3 separate regions of the Homo sapiens genome follow, and regions 1 and 2 are each linked to region 3. The links come from fine-mapping of genetic effects on gene expression. A gene starts in region 3. Each other region holds a variant in brackets. All regions are shown on one strand. Distances are from middle to middle.

Region 1 (5,000 bases), 87 kb before region 3:
AATGAATAATGAGCTTGAAGTCATTATTTTTAGGTTATTTTGTCCTTAAACTTGTATGCACATACACACCTACTCATGTTTGAGTGCTGTATTTTGTAAACTGTAGAGATATTGGACCTGAGGGAAGTGGGTATTTTGAGAGAGTACTGGGCTGTAGTCTTACTGGTTCTGATTGGCTCATGTAGGATGTGACTTGTAGAACAAGTCCCAGTTTTCTAAATTTTTAACTAGGCCGGGTGTGGTGGCTCACGCCTATAATCCCAGCACTTTGAGAGTCCAAGGCAGGTGGATCACTTGAGGTCAGGAGTTCAAGACCAGCCTGGCCAACATGGTGAAACCCCATCTCTACTAAAAATATAAAAATTTTCCAGGTGTGGCGTGCCTGTAATCACAGCCACTCAGGAGGCTGAGGCAGGAGAATCGCTTGAACCCAGGAGGTGCAGGATGCAGTGAGCCAAGATTGCACCACTGCACTCCAGCCGGGGTGACAGAGAGACACACTGCCTCAAAAAAAAAAAAAAAAAAGAAAAAATGCTTATTACAAATATTTAAAATATGAATTGTATAAAGTACAAAAAGAGCTCTTACTGTCCTCTCATGATTTTATTCTATGTATTACATATATGTGTCTATGTTTGTATATGTGTGTAATCATATATATTTCACACATACATGATTTTTTTAACAAATGGGATCATACATTCCATCCTGCAACTTGTCTTTTTTGTTTACTGGTATATCTTGACACTTTGGATATGGATCTATGTCATTGGCTTGCCTTTCATCATAGAGTTTTATTTGAAATGAAAATGTTTTTGGACTTCGGCATGATTTCCTAAACCCCCCAATCAATGTGTTTTAAGTAGTAAGTGTATTTGAATGCATATACATGCTGTGGCTTAGATCATTTTGTTTTCAAATAATACTGAAGTCCTCATAGCATTTGGTTGTTTTCTAGTCTCAGTTAATGGATATTAAACATAGAACTGCTCTGTGGAGACTAGAGAAATATTTTGAGGTTGAAAGGGGGCCTCATTCTTGAAAAAGCCTGGAGACCCTCAGGGAGAGGGTTGGGCAGGCTGCCTCCTGAAGTACCTTTCCACATTCCTGAGTTCTAGTAAGTTGCTCAATTGACACAGTCATTCAGCAAATAGCAATTGTTGGCTCATGGTGCGCCAGGCACTGTGCTGGTCCCTGCTGTCCTGACCAGCATGAGCCCATATTCTGCAAGGAGAGCAAATGGCACATAGCGAGAGCATCTGGACTGTGCTGGGTGTAGTGGAGGAAGTGGAGCAAGGTCAGGTGGCGCAGAGCGGTGCTGGGGGTGCCACCTGGGTGGTGATGAGGCAGAGCTGACTCTTCCTCTGCTGCCCATGGGAAAGGGAGCAGGCCCTGCTTACCCCGAGTGTACAAGAAGCCCAGTGGCCGGGAGCAGCTCCTCAGAGAGCTCCCTCCTGGACCCCGCAGTGACTGCCCACAGGCTCTGTGGCCTGCAAGGGGCTCTACAGCCAGATATGGGCATGCTGGCAGGCAGCTGTGCTTGAAATGCTGATAGGGGCCTGGGGTGTAATGCTCTTCTCAAGAGAGTGGTTTTGGCAGGGCTAGGGTTTTGCCCCTGAAGCTTTGCAAATCCACATCCCCCACTGGAGTCTCCACGTGTCCTGGTACCATCCCGGGGACAAGAAGCAGGGAAAAAGCAGGGGAAGGAGGTGGGAACCCTGCAGTCCACCCTTCTCCTATCCTAATGGAGTGGCCAGGGAAGGGACTCTCTGTATATCTTAGTTTAGTAAGAGTTTGCAGAAGTCAAGTTAAAAATGGATTTTTTGAAAATGAAATACCCATGTGAAAGAACACATTGGATGATACATGGTCAGTTGCATGATTGTTGAGAAGGTCTTCTGACTGATGAGTGTGCAGGTAGCTGTTTGTTCCTGTGGATGAAAAATGGGAGCCCGAAGAGCTCTTCATTGACACACCCACAGCCACCTAGCTAGGGAGAGGGTGAGTGTAGACCAGTCCCTGACCTCCTGCCCGGGTGAAAGACTAGCTACGGAGACGGTGAGTGCAGACCAGTCCCTGACCCCAGCCCAGGTGAAAGACTAGCTAGGGAGAGGGTGAGTGTAGACCAGCCCCTGACCCCCCGCCCAGCTGAAAGAAGCTAAGAGCTCCTGACTTTTAAATGAAAATCCAATACTTAGGAAGGCACATATGGCTTCAGGAGAGTGCACCTCTCAGTTTTCAACTCATGTAGTTGGAGAAATCCTATCCCTAGGCCACCTGGCTTCCTGGAGAACAGAAGAGGTGCTATTCATTTTCAGGTAAGGCTTCATTATCTTCCCACTTTACCTGCAGATGAGCTCAGTGGGCGAAATCATATTACATTCCTTCAGAAGACTAGTTCCATTGGAAAGATTTGATTCTTAAACTATAAAAACCTCCAAAGTGCTGTCCTGAGGCCGGGCGAGGGTGATCAGGGGTTGGAAGCCTGGAGGGAATGAGCAGAGCAGGCAGTGGAATATGCAGTTCCCAGGTCCT[C/T]CCGCCACATGCTCTGCAGAGTCAGCGCGTCACCTGCAGGAGGGAGGCAGTGCCTCTTATCGTTGTTCCCTTTTTCATAGCACTGATCCTAGGAGAGGGTGGGTTGCAAGCCCCAGGACACTCAGAGCCAGGACCTGTCTGTTTAGAATTGCATGCAACCTGCGTGGTACATCCTGTTCCTTTTACTCCCTCCCCAACCCACCCTGGTGCCTCTGCTGCTTGGTTAGAAATGGCCTGCAGCTGGCATTTTTCAGGGGGGTGCTCTCACTGTGACCCATGAGGATGGACCCCCCTGAGTGCACTGTCTTAGAGGGCTGAGCTCAGTGGACTTGGTACTGCTGGGCCCTGCATCCTCTGGCCACAGTCTAAGCCTCAGTTTCTTGAAGGGAAGTTAGCAGTTGCTGGAATAAGAGTGTGTCTTGTTTTTTTCTCTCTTCTTGGTGTAGACCCTACTGTCGCATTAATTTCTGGCAACCACACTGAGAAAGGTGTAGATTAAGCTGGAAAATCACGAAGAGTGCCAAGGGATTGGTCAGTTTTTACTGGGGGTCTGCACCAGGCCAGGTGGGTGCTGGTTTTTTGTCTACATTGTCTCATTTAATCCTCATGGCCACTCTGAGGTAGTGGTAGGAGGAGGGCCTTCTATTAGAGATGGGACATTGAGGCTTAGAGAGGTTAAGTGACTTATGGAGTCACAGAGCTAATGGGTGTGAGCAGGGATTTGAACCAAGTCTGGGGTTCTTTGTGCCTCACTATCTCTGACATGGAGTGGCGGAAGGAGGAGGGGATTGTGGGATGGAGACAGGAGACAGGACAGCTGGCTTGCAAGGAATTTGGCATGCCCCTGCTGGGTGGTGTTGCTGATAAACTACAGTACACTCGGTTAAATGTGAAGTTCAGAAAACAACACATAGGTTTTTGTTTTTGTTTTTTTTTAGTATAAGTATATGTAATATTTGGGACATACTTTATACTAAAAAAATTAACTGAAATTAAATCTAACTGGGTATCCTGTGTTTTTATTTGTTCAACCCGACTTGGGGAACCTGGGAAGGACACTGGGCCTCATATCTGGGCACAAAAAATACTGGTTTTGGGGGGGAGTATAAGTATGTCTTATGCAATATTTGGGTTATACTTACACTAAAATTTTATGTTATCTGAAATTCAATCTTAACTTGGGGGATGTCCTGTATTTTTATTTGTCTAATCAGGCAACCCTATTGGTGACCCCAGGAAACACACGAAGCCTTATACACGGGCACCTGAGGGTGGTTTGCGAGCCATCCGGAGAAAACCCAGGCAGCTTGGCAGGTGGTGAGCTCCCCACTGCAGGCTGTATTCAGGTGTGGCCGGATAACTACGTGGTGGGTGTGTCATGGATCCTATTTGCATTCCAGATGCCTGGTTCCTGTGAGATTCTAGGATGTAAATGTTGAGACAAGGAGAGTGATTCACCTGGGTCTTCATGGAGCTCTGACCCACCCAGGGTTAGGAGGCTCTCTCTGAAATTATTTGCCATCAGCACTGTGTTGAGGGGACCACTTCTCCCTGCCATGCAGAAGTGATGGATGGCCTCAGTCAGTCGGTGGAAGCCAGCTCAGCCCAGGGTCTTGTCTGTACGTGGAGAGCTTTGGCTTGAAGAAGCACTGTGTTAAAGGTGAAATGAAACACACTTTCTTGTGTCACCTGCCAAGAACTGACAGTGACTTCCCAGTTCTTTATGTGCCTCCTGCAGGAGAGTGTGGCTTCTGTGCCAGGCTGAGGACCGACATGCCCCGTGTTGCTCCCTGGCTGTGACAGCATGAAAAACACCCACCTCAGTGTTCTACCCAGGCCGCTGCTGGCAAGTGGGCGGAGGCGAGAAGCGTCAGTGTTCATTCCTTTGCTTTTTTAGAGCTTCTCTAGGTGTGGCTACATCTTGTCAGCCAGTCAGAATTTTAAACACAGCCAGCTCCTAATTGCCCCAGCATGGCTTCTGCCCACTATGAATGACCCTCAGCTAAGGCCTAGTCCTTGGCAGGCCTCTTCCTGCCACCTGCTTCCAGACCATCGTGGGAGCTCACTGGGACCTTAGCCTGGGCCCAACAGGAGTCAGGGATCAAATGTGCAAAGGAGTCTTATTCTGTGTTCTGAGAACACAAGGAAGTGGTCTTCTCTCATTATCATGTCTCTCCATTAGGGTGTTCTAAATTTGATTTTATTATTGAATCAATCATTTATATTATTAATTCAATATGAAATGTTAAATGCCAAGTCAAACTACCTATTGTAGCAGTGGAAAAAAACGGAAATATTTGTGCTGATACTTACTGACTGAAATCACCTGTCGTTTTCATTCCTCTTTGTTGACTTGATGTATTTGTAAGCAGCAGGGGCATCTCGCTTGTGTTTTCCAGGAAGAGTCAGTGAATGGCTGCGGTGTGACAACATGCACCACCAGTGGCTTCTGCTGGCCGCATGCT
Region 2 (6,437 bases), 23 kb before region 3:
GCATATGGAATAGCTAACTATTATTCCATGCATTCAAAAAAATTCTATATATACTCCAACTTTCTGTCTGGAGGCTCATTGTGGACCATGGAGTAGGGAGGGGATCCCAAAAGTGAACAGAATCCTCCCTGGGCTTAGGAGACAGAGGTTGGAGTTCAGGCAACTGAAAGTTGTGGGGGCAGAGTACAAGAATGGAAAGATAGAATAAACAGGAGGGAGAAAGAAAGAGCTACAGAAACTTACCTGGCAGTTGCCTTGAGACTTTCCTGAATTATAAAGTGTGCACATGTAGGATGAAGCTCCATGAGGTAGAGCAAAGAGAGGTCAGAGTTATGAGCTGAATGGTTCTCAGGGCTCACACACTCCTAGAAATTATGCAAGGTCACCATTAGCCAGAGTAAAGAGTTGTCCCTCACCACTCAGGGCACCCAATAGAAACCCCCAGATGGGCCACATCTTAGAAGTAAGGCTACGCTCTCCTTGATATAAAGGCAACTCTAGATCCACCATAACAAAACTTCAAAAGAAGCCTCAAAAGGAACAGAAAGTAACTTTACCAGAACAATGCCCTATACTTTTTGGGGGGCTGAGGGAGTCTTTCTCTGTCACCCAAGCTGGAGTATAGTGGCACAGTCATGGCTCACTGCAGCCTCGACCTCCTGGGCTCAAGTGATCCTCCCGTCTCAGCCTCCCAAGTAGCTGGGACCACAGGCACACGCTACCATGCTCAGTTAATTGGTTGTTGTTGTTGTTTTGGAGAGATGGGGTCTCACTTTGTTGCCCAGGTTGATCTCAAACTCCTGGACTCAAGTGATCCTCCCTCCTCAGTCTCTCACAATGCTGGGATTACAGTTGTGAGCCACCATGGCCAGCCTTGCCCTGTACTTAAAAAGAAAATAATCCAGATACTCATTAAATAAAAGTACAATTTCCAGCATCCAGTTCAGTATTATTAGACTTGCCAAGCAATAGAAAAATGTGACTCACAACTTAGGAGAAAAATCAGTCAATATAAACAGACCTAGAAATAATAGAAATAATGAAAGTGGCCGCAAAAGATGTAAATACAGTTATTATAATTATGTTTAAGTGCTTAAAGGAAAACATCAGTGTAGTAAGGAGAGAAATGGGAGATATATAAAGGAACCACATGGAAGGTCCTAGAGATTAAAAATACAATATCTGGAAAAAAAATTCATTGTGTGGGAAAAAAAATTCACATACTAGACCATGCAGAAAAAAAGATTAGTGAACTAGAATGCATAGCAATAGATAGAACAGAAACTATGCAAAATAAAAAAGAGACCACTGAAAATAAATCAACAGAATCTCAGTGACCTCTGGGATAATGTCAAATAGTCTAGCACACATGTAATGGGAGTACCAGAAGGAGAAAATGGGGAACAGAAAAATATATTTGAAGAAATAATGGCCTCCGAAATTTCCAAATCTGATTAAATCTATATGTCCACAAGTTTAACAAGCTCAGTGAACTCCAAGAGGGTTAAATACAAAGAAAACCACCCCAAGGCATATAAAATTCCTGAAAACCAGTGATAAAGGAAAAAATCTTAGGAGCAATCAGAAGAAAAAACAGCATATTACATAGGGGAACAAACACAAATCAGTCACAGACTTCTCACTAGAAACTATGAAAGCCAGAACAATGAAATGACATCTTTAACATGCTGAAAGAAAGTAACTTTGAACTTCGAATTCTATGCTCATCAAAAATAGCCTGCAAAAATAAAGGCAAAGAAAAACTTTTATCAGGAAAAAATACATATGACATAATAGCACAAAAGATATGTAGGGAGTGAAAGTAAACTCCTACATATTGTTGTAAACTTTTTGCATAATTATTGAGGAGGTGCTAGGTAAACAGAGCAGCCAGTGTGAACATTTTCAGATGTCAGTCACCTCGCATGAATCCTATGCTCAAAGCCCTCCAACAGTGTTCCACCTCACAGTAAATGCTGAAGTCCCTGCCATAGCCTGTGAGGTTGGGCACAATTTGACCCTCTCCTCTCAAATTCTCACCACCACTGTGACCTCAATTATGAATAGATTAGCAAAAATACACATTTATGAGTCTTTTTAAAATAAAATTTCACCAAGAATTTATGATTATCTTTTCTCTGGAAATTATGAAATACATCTTCTTAAAATGTAAGACCCATAAGACAATGCCATCATCTCCCTTGTCTGGAATTCACTCCAACATGGCAGGGAATTTCTCCCAAGTTCCCATAATTTCTGCTTGGCCACATAGTCCTTTCTCCAATATTACAATTGAGCCCAGAGCAGAAGATCCTGCTCTTGTTGCCTTAACTTTCAGAATGATTTTTAAAATGGTAGCTAAATAGCCTTTCAGGAGCCACAATCTGTGCTAAGGGCTTTTGACCAAGGGGAGCATGTGGGTTACATTGGAGCTTTAATTGTTTCTAATGGATGAATAAAATCCTTGCTGTTCTTCTTCTGAGTCACTGCAGTCTCCACTGCTCCATTTCCTCCACTGTATTAGGTTTCAGACCACGGACTCTTCAGGTTGTCACTAGGGCCCTTTTCCCCTTGCCAACTTATTTTCCAAGCCTTGCCTCCCTTTCCTTGCACATCAGCTAAATGGACCTAGTGACTTAGCCTTGGGAAAAGCCTACTAGTCCTCATCCACACCTCTGTTCATGACGCCCTGCAGCCAGGGTTATTTTTGTCCTCTAAAGACCCATAGCATAAAGAGCCGTATTTCTATAGTTGAAAGCCATACAACCTATTTTCAGTTGCGGATATCTATGAGGGTAAGTAAGGAAAACCAACTACACTGTGCTTGAGCAGACTTCCAGCAGCTGCCAAGATTTTACACTCCTGGGGTGATCTTAACTTGTCCCAAATTTACAATTTATAATAGGCAACTATCATCTCTACAGAAGAAAAATAGAAAAATATGTAATGTAGAAAACTAAATATGCCAAGGTTTGGTGAGAGTTA[A/T]TCACAAGTTTCTGTAAGAATAGGGCTTATCTTCCATCCCAACCTCTTTTTTAACCTATATTTACTCACTAACTCCCAAGTCAGTATCAAGTGTGCAGGAATGATAAAGAAATGCCTGTAACATTCTAGGAGCTTTTGCAGGCTCCTTGTCCTCCTTCAGCTGTTAATAAATAACAAATTAATGTGTGAACTGGTAAAAATTATTCAGCAGGATTGACTTCCCAGTAGTTGTTGGAGTATATTTTAGGGTAGTTTAACAAATTGGGCCACTGGGGAAGAAGTAGCTGTATTAGTCCATTTTCATAATTCTATGAATAAATACCTGAGACTGGGTAACTTATAAAGAAAAAGAGGTTTAATGGACTCACAATTCCACCTAGCTGGGAGGCCTCACAATAATGGGGGAAGGCAAAGGAGGAGCAAAGCCACGTTTTACATGGTGGCAGGCAAGACAGTGTGTGCAGGGAAACTGCCCTTTATAAAACCATCAGATCTTGTGAGACTTATTCACTATCACAAGGACAGCACAGGAAAGACCTGCTCCCATGATTTAATTACCTCCCACCAAGTTCCTCCCATGACATGTGGGGATTATGGGAGCTACAATTCAAGATGAGATTTGGGAGGGGACACAGCCAAACCATATCATTCCACACCTGTCCCCTCCCAAATCTCATGTCCTCACATTTCAAAACCAATCATGCCTTCCCAATAGTCCCCCAAAGTCCTAATTGTTTTCAGCATTATCTCAAAAGTCCACAGTCCAAAGTCTTATCTGAGACAAGGCAAGTCCCTTGTGCCTATGAGCCTGTAAAATCAAAAGCAAGTTAGTTACTTCCTAGATTCAATGGGGGTACAGGCATTGGGTAAATACATCTGTTCCAAATGGGAGAAATTGGCCAAAGCAAAGGGGATACAGGCTCCATGCAATTGCAAAATCCAGCAGGGCAGTCAAATCCTAAAGCTCCAAAATGATCTCCTTTGACTCTATGTCTCACATCCAGGTCATGCTGATGCAAGAGCTGGGTTTCCATGGTCTGGGGGAGCTCTGCCCTTGTGGCTTTTTGCCTCCCTCTCTGCTGCTTTCACGGGCTGCGGCTTTTCCAGGCACACAGTGCAAGCCGTTGTTGATCTGTGGCAGGCCAATTCTCCCTGAGAGTCACACAGACAGGGCTCCATAGCACTCCAGTTATACAGGCAAACTTCCACAGCGTCTGCCTTAACAGTAAGTTAATAATTAAACCTAGGGAAACTGATGCCCAGACATTAAAGCCAGAAATGAAACATATGTTTCAGGAGAGTCTTGCTCAGGCTTCTCCTGAAGCTTGGAACAAGTAAAGATAATGGAAATAGCTTTACATTCCTTGTAACAGGACCCATCTTGGGTTGACCACACCTGGGGTAAGTCAAGATAACAAAGACAGCCCTACATTCCTCATACCAAGACCCATCTTGGGTTGAATAAATTTACTGGGGGTCTGAAGCAACTCTCTAGACACAAATCGTAGGTAAGATAAGACAGAAGTAATCACTCCAGTATCAGGGCCCTCATTAAACAGACTTAGGAGACATTTCTTAATCACCATGATTCCAGGGCCCTCATGGATTAAGTAGATTTAGAGGACATCTCTGGCCTCTGGCCTTGTAGTTAAAACAAAATTAATCACCTATAAACTTAGGTGAATATGGTACTGAACATAGGCATACAATCTAAACATATGTAGGCACTGGAAAAAATTTATAATCCTGAGTTGGTCTAACAAATTATCTCTGACCCTCTCCCTGTATCCAGTTACAGAAGCAAACTCTCTTCTTTCCCAATTCATATGCATCTCATTATAGGGCCATGAGAAAATGCAGCCAGACCTGGTTCAGTCCGGGAACAGATCTGTCATTCTGGGGTCTAGACATGGTGGCCCTCTTCTCACAGCTCCACTAGTCAGTGCCCTAGTGGGGACTCTGTGTAGGGGCTCCCACCCCACATTTCCCTTCCACACTGCCCTAGCAGAGGTTCTCCAAGAGATCTCTACCCCTGCAGCACACTTCTGCCTGGACATCCAGGTATTTCCATACATCCTCTGAGATCTAGGTGGAGGTTCCCAAGCCTCAATTCTTGACTTCTGTGCACCTACAGGCCTAACACCATGTGTAAGCTGCCAAGGTCTGGAGTTTGCACCCTGTGAAGCAACAGCCTGAGCTCTATGTTGGCCCCTTTAAGCCACAGCTGGTATGCAGGGCACCAAGTCCCGAGACTGCACAAAGCAACAAGACCCTGGTCCAGCCCACAAAAACATTTTTTCTCATAGGCTTCCTGGCTTGTGATGGGAATGTTGCTGGGGAGACTTCTGACATGCCCTGGAGACATGTTCCCCATTGTCTTGGTGATTAACATTTGGCTTCTCATTATTTATGCAAATTTCTGTAGCTAGCTTGAATTTCATTTCAAAAAATGGGTTTTTCTTTTTTATTGCATCATCAGGCTGCAAATTTTCCAAACTTTTATGCTCTGCTTCCCGTTTAAATATAAGTTCAAATTCCAAGCCATATTTTTGTGAATACATAAAACTGAATGCTTTTAACAGCACCAGGTGACCTCTGAAATGCTTTGCTGCTTAGAAATTTCTTCTGCCAGATACCCTAAATCAACTCTCTCAAGTTCAAAGTTCCACAGATCTCTAGGGCAGGGGCAAAATGCCACCAGTCTCTTTGCTAAAACATAGCAAGAGTCACCTTTATTCCAGTTCCCAACAAGTTCATCATCTCCATCTGAGACCACCTCAGCCTGGATTTCATTGTCCATATCACTGTCAGCATTTTGTCAAAGCCATTCAATAAGTCTCTAGGAAGTTCCACACTTTCTCACATTTTCCTGTCTTTTTCTGCACCCTCCAAATTTTTCCAACCTCTGCCTGTTACCCAGTTCCAAAGTCGCTTCCACATTTTCAGGTATCCTTATAGCAGTACCCCACTCTACCTGTACCAATTTACTGTATTCATCCATTTTCATACTGCTATGAAGAAATGCCCAAGACTGGATAATTTATAAAGAAAAAGAGGTTTAATGGACTCACAGTTCCACATGGCTGGGGAGGCCTCACATTTATAGTGGAAGGCAAAGGAGGAGCAAAGGCATGTTTTACATGGTGGCAGGCAAGAGCACATGTGCAGGGGAACTGCCCTTTATAAAACCATCAGATCTCATGAGACTTATTCACTATCATGAGAATAGCATGGGAAAAACCCACCCCCATGATTCAATTACCTCTTACTGTGTCCCTCCTATGTCACGCAGGGATTATGGGAGCTACATTTCAAGATGAGATTTGGGTGGGGACGCAGCCAAACCTTATCAGTAGCATTACTGGATTGCAAATACAGTTGCAAGACAAGGGTTAGCACCAGCCACTTAGGGAGGCTGGGTTTGGGGGAGATTTGACAATTTACCTCATAGG
Region 3 (6,437 bases):
GTGTGAGAGTTCTGCATATGCCCTGTATTTGCCAGCACTCAGCATGGTCAGCCTTTTTAATCACAGACATTCCACTAGGTGTGCAGTACTAACTGCTTGGGGTTTCATTTGCATTTCCCCAGTGGCTCATAATGCTGAGCATCTTATTTGCCATCAATATGTCTTCTGTAATGAAATGACTGTTCAAATCTTCCACTCACTTTTTAATCCAGTTCTGTATTTTCTTATTGAGTTCTTGGATTTCTTTATATATTTTTGGTTCGTACTTTATCAGCTATGTGATCGGCAAATATTTTCTCCTAGTGTGTAGCATGTCTTAGCAGTGTCTTTAAAACAGCAGAAGTCCTCAATTTGATCCAATTTATTGATGTATCAGTGCCCTAGAAGGAATACTTTTAAATTGGGATTTGTTTTATGGCTCTAAGATGTTCTATATCGGTAAATGTCCCATGTGCACTTGGAAAGAATGTGTATTCTGCTATTGTTGGGTGGAGTGTTCTATAAACATCAATCAGATTGAGTTGGTTTGTAGAATTGCTCAAGTCTTCTATAGCCTCACTGATTTTCAGTATACTTGTATTAATTGTTGAAAGAGGGGTGTTTTATTTTTAAGTTCTGGGGTACACGTGCAGGATGTGAAGGTTTGTTACATAGGTAAACGTGTGCCATGGTGGTTTACTGCACCTATCAAACCATCACCTAGGTTTTAAGCCCCACATGAATTACTTATTTTTCTTCATGCTCTCCCTTCCTCGGTCCCACCGCCGACAGGCCCCAGTGTGTGTTGTTCCCCTCCCTGTGTCCATGTGTTCTCATTGTTCAGTTCCCACTCATAAGTGAGAATATGCAGCATCTGGTTTTCTGTTCCTGTGTTGGTTTGCTGAGGATAACGGCTTCCAGCTCCATCCATGTCCTTACAAAGGACATGATCTTGTTCTTTTTATGGTGAAAAAGGGATATTTAAATATCCAACTATAATTATTAATTTACCTATTTCACCTTACAGTTCTATCAGTTTTTGCTTCAAATATTTGAAAGCTCTGTTATTGGGAACACACGCGGTTAGGACTATTATGTCCTCTTGACCAACTAACACCTTTATCATTATGAAATGGCTGTCCTTTCTCCTAGCAATGTTCTTGGCTATGTAATAGACTTTGTCAGCTATCAATATAGTCACTCTAGATTTATTTTGCTTAGAGTTAACTAGAACATCTTTTTCCATCCTTTTACCTTTACCTTATTTGTATTTTCATATTTAAAAGTTCTTTTTTGGTAGGCAGCATATATCTGGGTCTTCCTTTTGACAATCTTTGCCTTTTAATTATGGTATTTAGACAATATTTAATGAACATTAACCGATATAATTGGGTTTAAACCTGCCATCTTGCTATTTGTTCTCTATTTGTTTTATCTAATTGTTTCCTTCCTCTCTTTTTATGCCTTCTTTTGGATTAATAGAGTTTTTTTTAACAATTTCATTTCATCTCTATAGGCTTTTAAACTATAGCTCTTTGTGTTATTTAGGAGGTTGCTTTAGGGTTAGAGGACACATCCTTAACTCATTACAGTCTTTCTTAAAGTGACATTATACCATTTCACATATAGCATTAGAACCTTACAACAGTATCCTGCCATTTCTCCTCTACCTGCCTTTGTGTTATATTTGTGATATATTTTATTTCTATGTGTTATAAACCTCACAACACACTAACATTTTTGCTTTAAACACTTCTGGCTCTCAGCAGGCATACCTCCGGCAAGCTTCTTTCTGTTCTCTTGCTAGATATTTGTCTAAAATAAGAACAAATAGGATCTGAGATCATAAGGTTTCACAATCTTTACTGTATGGTCTGTGCTCTGAAGCTTTTTCCCCATTGCTTCCTGATTGTTGGTTGTGAATTTGATGGATAAATGACCCTCAAATATAAGTGAATTGTTATTCTATAAAGAAAGCAGATAAAAATCCAAACAGTGATTGAAAAAGTGAATTTGAAATAATTCAGTAATGAAAAAGAGACCCAAACAGTACACTGTTATCAATTAAGTTAGGTAGACAGCTGGGGGAAATCCTTCATGGAAAAGGAGGTGGGTACTCTGCATTTGTTTATTGTAGAACTAGAGGGCTGGCCAAAAATTGCCCCTTTTTCCCTTTTAGGAACTGGTCTAAAATGTTCTCTCACTTAATGAGGCATTTCTCCTTTCCCAAAGCCAGATGTGGTCGAGGTATTGTATATTTTCTTTAGCCAGCAGTTTTAGATGTAGAAAAACCTCTCCAATTTTTTAAAAAAATTTATTCTTGAAATATGAACAGTAGTATGAATTCTAGAATATTGTAATGCATTTTATTGTATTCAAATACACAGGATAAAACAGATACTGTGACGACAGGAAGAAGGGAGCAGGCTACATAGGAGAAATACATAGGCTATATAGGAGAAATTATGAACCCGGTTAATACGCACAGAGGATTTTAATTTAAACCTTGCTTGTACACCAACGGAGCGTTTAGCTCCCTCTCCCCAGCAACTTATGTCTGCAGTACTCCATACTAGGGCACCCTTTCTATTTCTATTCTAATTCTATTAATTAGAATTCTATTTCTAATTCTATTTCTGCTTCCTAATCAAGGGCACAATACAATTGTCCACTTCTCGAATCCCTCCTCCTCCTGGTATCTGGTTCTCTTGGCCCTCCACGTTCTCTGTTAAAATGAGTTCTCAAAGGCCTCAGCCTAGAGTTAAGAGAAGAAGCTCGCTGAGGCGGGGCCTCTGGGTGCCCACTTCAGCCTCCCCAGTCATTTAGGACAATTTCCTAAGTCGAAGCTAGAGATGCGTGATGCGTTTGGTGACTTTTCCTGGGTTCTTGCTTAAGCGGAGCCACAGGTTGTGGGGGCGGCCAGGCCTCTGGGGAAGAGCAGGTGCCGCGGTGCCGGCGCGCCAGCAGCCCGCGGCCAAGGCCACCTGCTCCCAGGGCCCCGGCACCTCTGCGGGGAGGCGGCAGGCAGAGGACGCGCGCGCAGTCGCGCAGGAGCCCTCAGGCGAGTGGGGGAAGCATCGCAAGAGACGCGGACCTGGAGCGCGGTCACTGCGTTACCGCAGCGACCTGGGTTACCTAAGCCGGCGGGACTGAGAGGCCGCTGCGCGTGGGCAGGGGCTCAGATTGCGCCCGCGGTGCCTGTCCCGGCCCCCACCCCGGAACGATTGCAGCCCTGCGGGGCTCGCCGCCCACACCGCGCTGAGGACGCTGCCCAAGCCAGGCGCCCGCCCCCGCCCGCGGTCTCAGCCGCTCGCAGCGCGCCGCCCCCAGACGCGCGTGGCTGCTGGCGAGGGCTGAGACCGCGCTCCCGCCGGCCAGTTCCCAGCAGCAGCGCATCCTCCCTGCTCCGCGCCTTCGCTCCGGACCCGCGTCGTCGCAGCCCCGCGGTGATGAGCCCCGAGCCGGTCCCGCCGCCGCCGCCGCCCCAGTGTCCTGGCTGCGACCGCGCGGAGCCGATCGCCCAGCGCTTAGAGGAGGGCGACGAGGCCTTCCGCGCGGGCGACTACGAGATGGCAGCCGAGCTCTTTCGCTCCATGCTAGCCGGGCTGGCGCAGCCGGACCGCGGCCTGTGCCTGAGGCTGGGGGACGCGCTGGCCCGCGCCGGCCGCCTCCCCGAAGCCCTGGGCGCGTTCCGCGGCGCCGCGCGGCTCGGGGCGCTGCGGCCGGAGGAGCTGGAAGAGCTGGCGGGCGGCCTGGTGCGCGCCGTGGGCCTGCGCGACCGGCCGCTGTCCGCGGAGAACCCGGGCGGCGAGCCCGAGGCGCCCGGCGAGGGAGGGCCGGCCCCGGAGCCCCGCGCGCCCCGCGACCTGCTCGGCTGCCCGCGCTGCCGGCGGCTGCTGCATAAGCCGGTGACGCTGCCCTGCGGGCTCACAGTCTGCAAGCGCTGCGTGGAGCCAGGGCCCGCGCGGCCGCAGGTGCGGCGCGTGAACGTGGTGCTGAGCGGCCTGCTGGAGAAGTGCTTCCCGGCCGAGTGCCGGCTGCGCAGGCTGGCAGGCCAGGCGCGGAGCCTGCAGCGCCAGCAGCAGCCGGAGGCCGCGCTGCTCAGGTGCGACCAGGCCCTGGAGCTGGGTGAGTCGGCTGCGGGGCGGGTCCGCCTCCCCTACACCTGTCCGGCCCAGCAGCGGGGTGGGGAGCTGGCCGGTGGGCCCGAGGCTTTGGGCTTTCGAGAGCTTTGTCTAGGCTTAGGGGTCACTTTGCTTCCTAAGGATGGGAAGGTGAAAGGTGGGGGCGGCCACACCCTGCAGCCAGGAGAGGCCAAGTGCACCCCACTGGTTTTGTCTTTTCCAGGATGCTGGTAAGTTTCCCGCGGCCCCCGGAGCAGCTCTGTAAGGTCCTGTAATTGCTTTTCGGCATCTTCTGCGCTGTTGAGGAGCGGGGAGGATGACGAAATATTTTTGCTCATCCTGAAGGAAAATGCACATAGCTGACACACTACAGGCGCAGAAAGGGGTGCCTTGTGCTGGGGCAAGATTTGCTTTGGGTTTCAGCTAATATAGCCAGGAAGGAACCGCCTCCACTCTGCTGTAATCACGTCAAACGCTCCGGCTCTAGCCTGCTCTCTGTCTCAGAGGCCATCATTAGATGTCATGGCGTATTTAACTTACTAGATAGTTACACTGACTAGTGTGTGTAGTTTTAAATTGTTCATTCAGTCATTTCCTTATTTATCTGAGGCCTAAGGCCAGCAACAGGCACTCTCCTGCCTTCACCCAGCCACCACCTGTTAACACTATTTAGCTGAAAGGAAGACCAAACTTCTGTCATCGTTTTGGCTTTGACATATGAGTATGCGCTCTATTGGCAGTTGTTTTGGGCAGTGTGAGGAGGACGGTTTGCTTTCTGGTTTCACCGGTTTTATAATAGGGCATATACGATTTAAAGCACTAGCCGAGAAGACTTGTTGAATCTCTTGTTACTAAAATAATCTACTACCATGCTGTAGTCAGTGCACATTTTATTTTAAACTTAGGATTAAGGTTTTCCCTTTTAGAAGGCACAAATTATAAAGTGACTAGCATTCAATTTTGTCTTGCAAAAAAAAAGATCCAAATATTGAACAAGTGTTCAATATCTGTATCTAAATTGGGATATTCTCTGCTGGAATAGAGCACTTAACTCAGCTTTTCTAACGAGTATTCTGTAGTTTTTGCAACCAACATATCCATACTTTAACAGGCATATTTTTTAGTTTTCTACTAATTTAGGTATTGATGGTGTTAGAGCAGCACTATCCAATTAGAACTATTGTGTAAGCCACACATAATTTGGGATTTTCTTGTAGCTACATTAAAAGGGTGAAAAAAGCAGGTGAAATTTATTTTAGCAATTTTTAACCCTATACATCCAAAATATTATTTCAACATGCCTTCAATTTTAAAAAATAATTGAGATTTTACTTTTTTAAACTAAGCCTTTGAAATTCGTTATATATTTTGCATTTACTGCACTACCCAATTCCAACATCAAATTTTCATCAGAAATACTTCATCTGTATTTAGATGTTGGAGAAGATGTAGAAAAATGAAAACTGTGATATTTATATGCTGCTAATGGGACTGCAAATTATGCCCCTGAAAAATATTTGGTAGTATCTACAGATGTTAAGCCTGTCCTTGGCCAAATAGTTTCAAAGAGGTATATGCATATGTGCCCCCAAAAGAATGTGCAATTAGATACAAGAGTGTATGTCATTGTTAGAGATACCCCAAAAGTGCACACAACCCAAATGTCCAGTAAGAGCAGAAGGGGTGAATATATGATTATGTTTTCATAGCATACTATACAGAAAGAAAATAAATCAACTACAGTTACAAACTACAATGTGGACAAATCTCACAAACATAATGTTAAGTGGAAGAAGCCAGACTCAAGCATTTTTACTATATGATCCTATTTATCTGTAAGCCCAAACAGACAAAATTACTGTAGGATGTTAGAAGTAAGGACAATGGTTACCTTGGGGGGATGAAAAGGGAATAGTGATTGTGAGGAAGTATGAGAGGGATCTGTGGGGTAGTGGTGATGTTCTGTTTCATGATTTAGGGGATGGATACACAAGTGTGTTCACTTTGCAATAGTTCATTGCACTATATACTTATATTTTTAGCTTTTCTGTATATATATTAGACCTAATTTAAACGTTTTTAAAATAGGCTATTTCAGTAAATTCATATGAGAACTTATATAGAATGTATTCATTTTTCTATTCAAAGATTAGCTTAAAATTTTATGAAAACATTTAATTTCAAAATAAATTAGCCCTTTTAAAGAGGTTTTGATATAGTTAAAAAAAAAGTTCACAGATGTTTGGAATCAGAAATACCTGTGTTTAGATCCAAGCTCTGACTTTTTTTTTTTTTTTTAAGACGGAGTCTTGCTCTGTCACCAGGCTGAAGTGT

Which allele goes with the higher level. Positions count from the first base shown, and alleles are read on the strand shown. Sizes are in standard deviations (SD) of each study's normalised expression. Not every link is listed here.
With allele T in place of C in region 1, the expression in atrial appendage of the gene that starts at base 3,021 in region 3 is higher (small effect, 0.30 SD a copy in GTEx).

The links. PIP is the estimated chance that this variant, and not a neighbour inherited with it, causes the effect.
Region 1: its variant is the best candidate, but not a certain one, in a credible set for the expression of LONRF2 in atrial appendage (GTEx, PIP 0.52).
Region 2: its variant is the best candidate, but not a certain one, in a credible set for the expression of LONRF2 in stomach (GTEx, PIP 0.72).

Annotation. Positions count from the first base shown.
Region 1 is chr2:100,406,642-100,411,641 of GRCh38, reverse strand. CHST10 (carbohydrate sulfotransferase 10) reads left to right here. Exons shown (of 7, transcript NM_004854.5): 3 at 4,935-5,000. The coding sequence starts at 4,967. Among named protein-coding and RNA genes, the nearest start is that of CHST10, 8.5 kb to the left of the region's middle. The variant C/T (reference allele first, on the strand shown) is at 2,536.
Region 2 is chr2:100,342,374-100,348,810 of GRCh38, reverse strand. No RefSeq gene overlaps it. Among named protein-coding and RNA genes, the nearest start is that of LONRF2, 23 kb to the right of the region's middle. The variant A/T (reference allele first, on the strand shown) is at 2,986.
Region 3 is chr2:100,319,085-100,325,521 of GRCh38, reverse strand. It overlaps LONRF2 (LON peptidase N-terminal domain and ring finger 2), which reads left to right and starts at 3,021. Exons shown (of 12, transcript NM_198461.4): 1 at 3,021-4,107. The coding sequence starts at 3,429.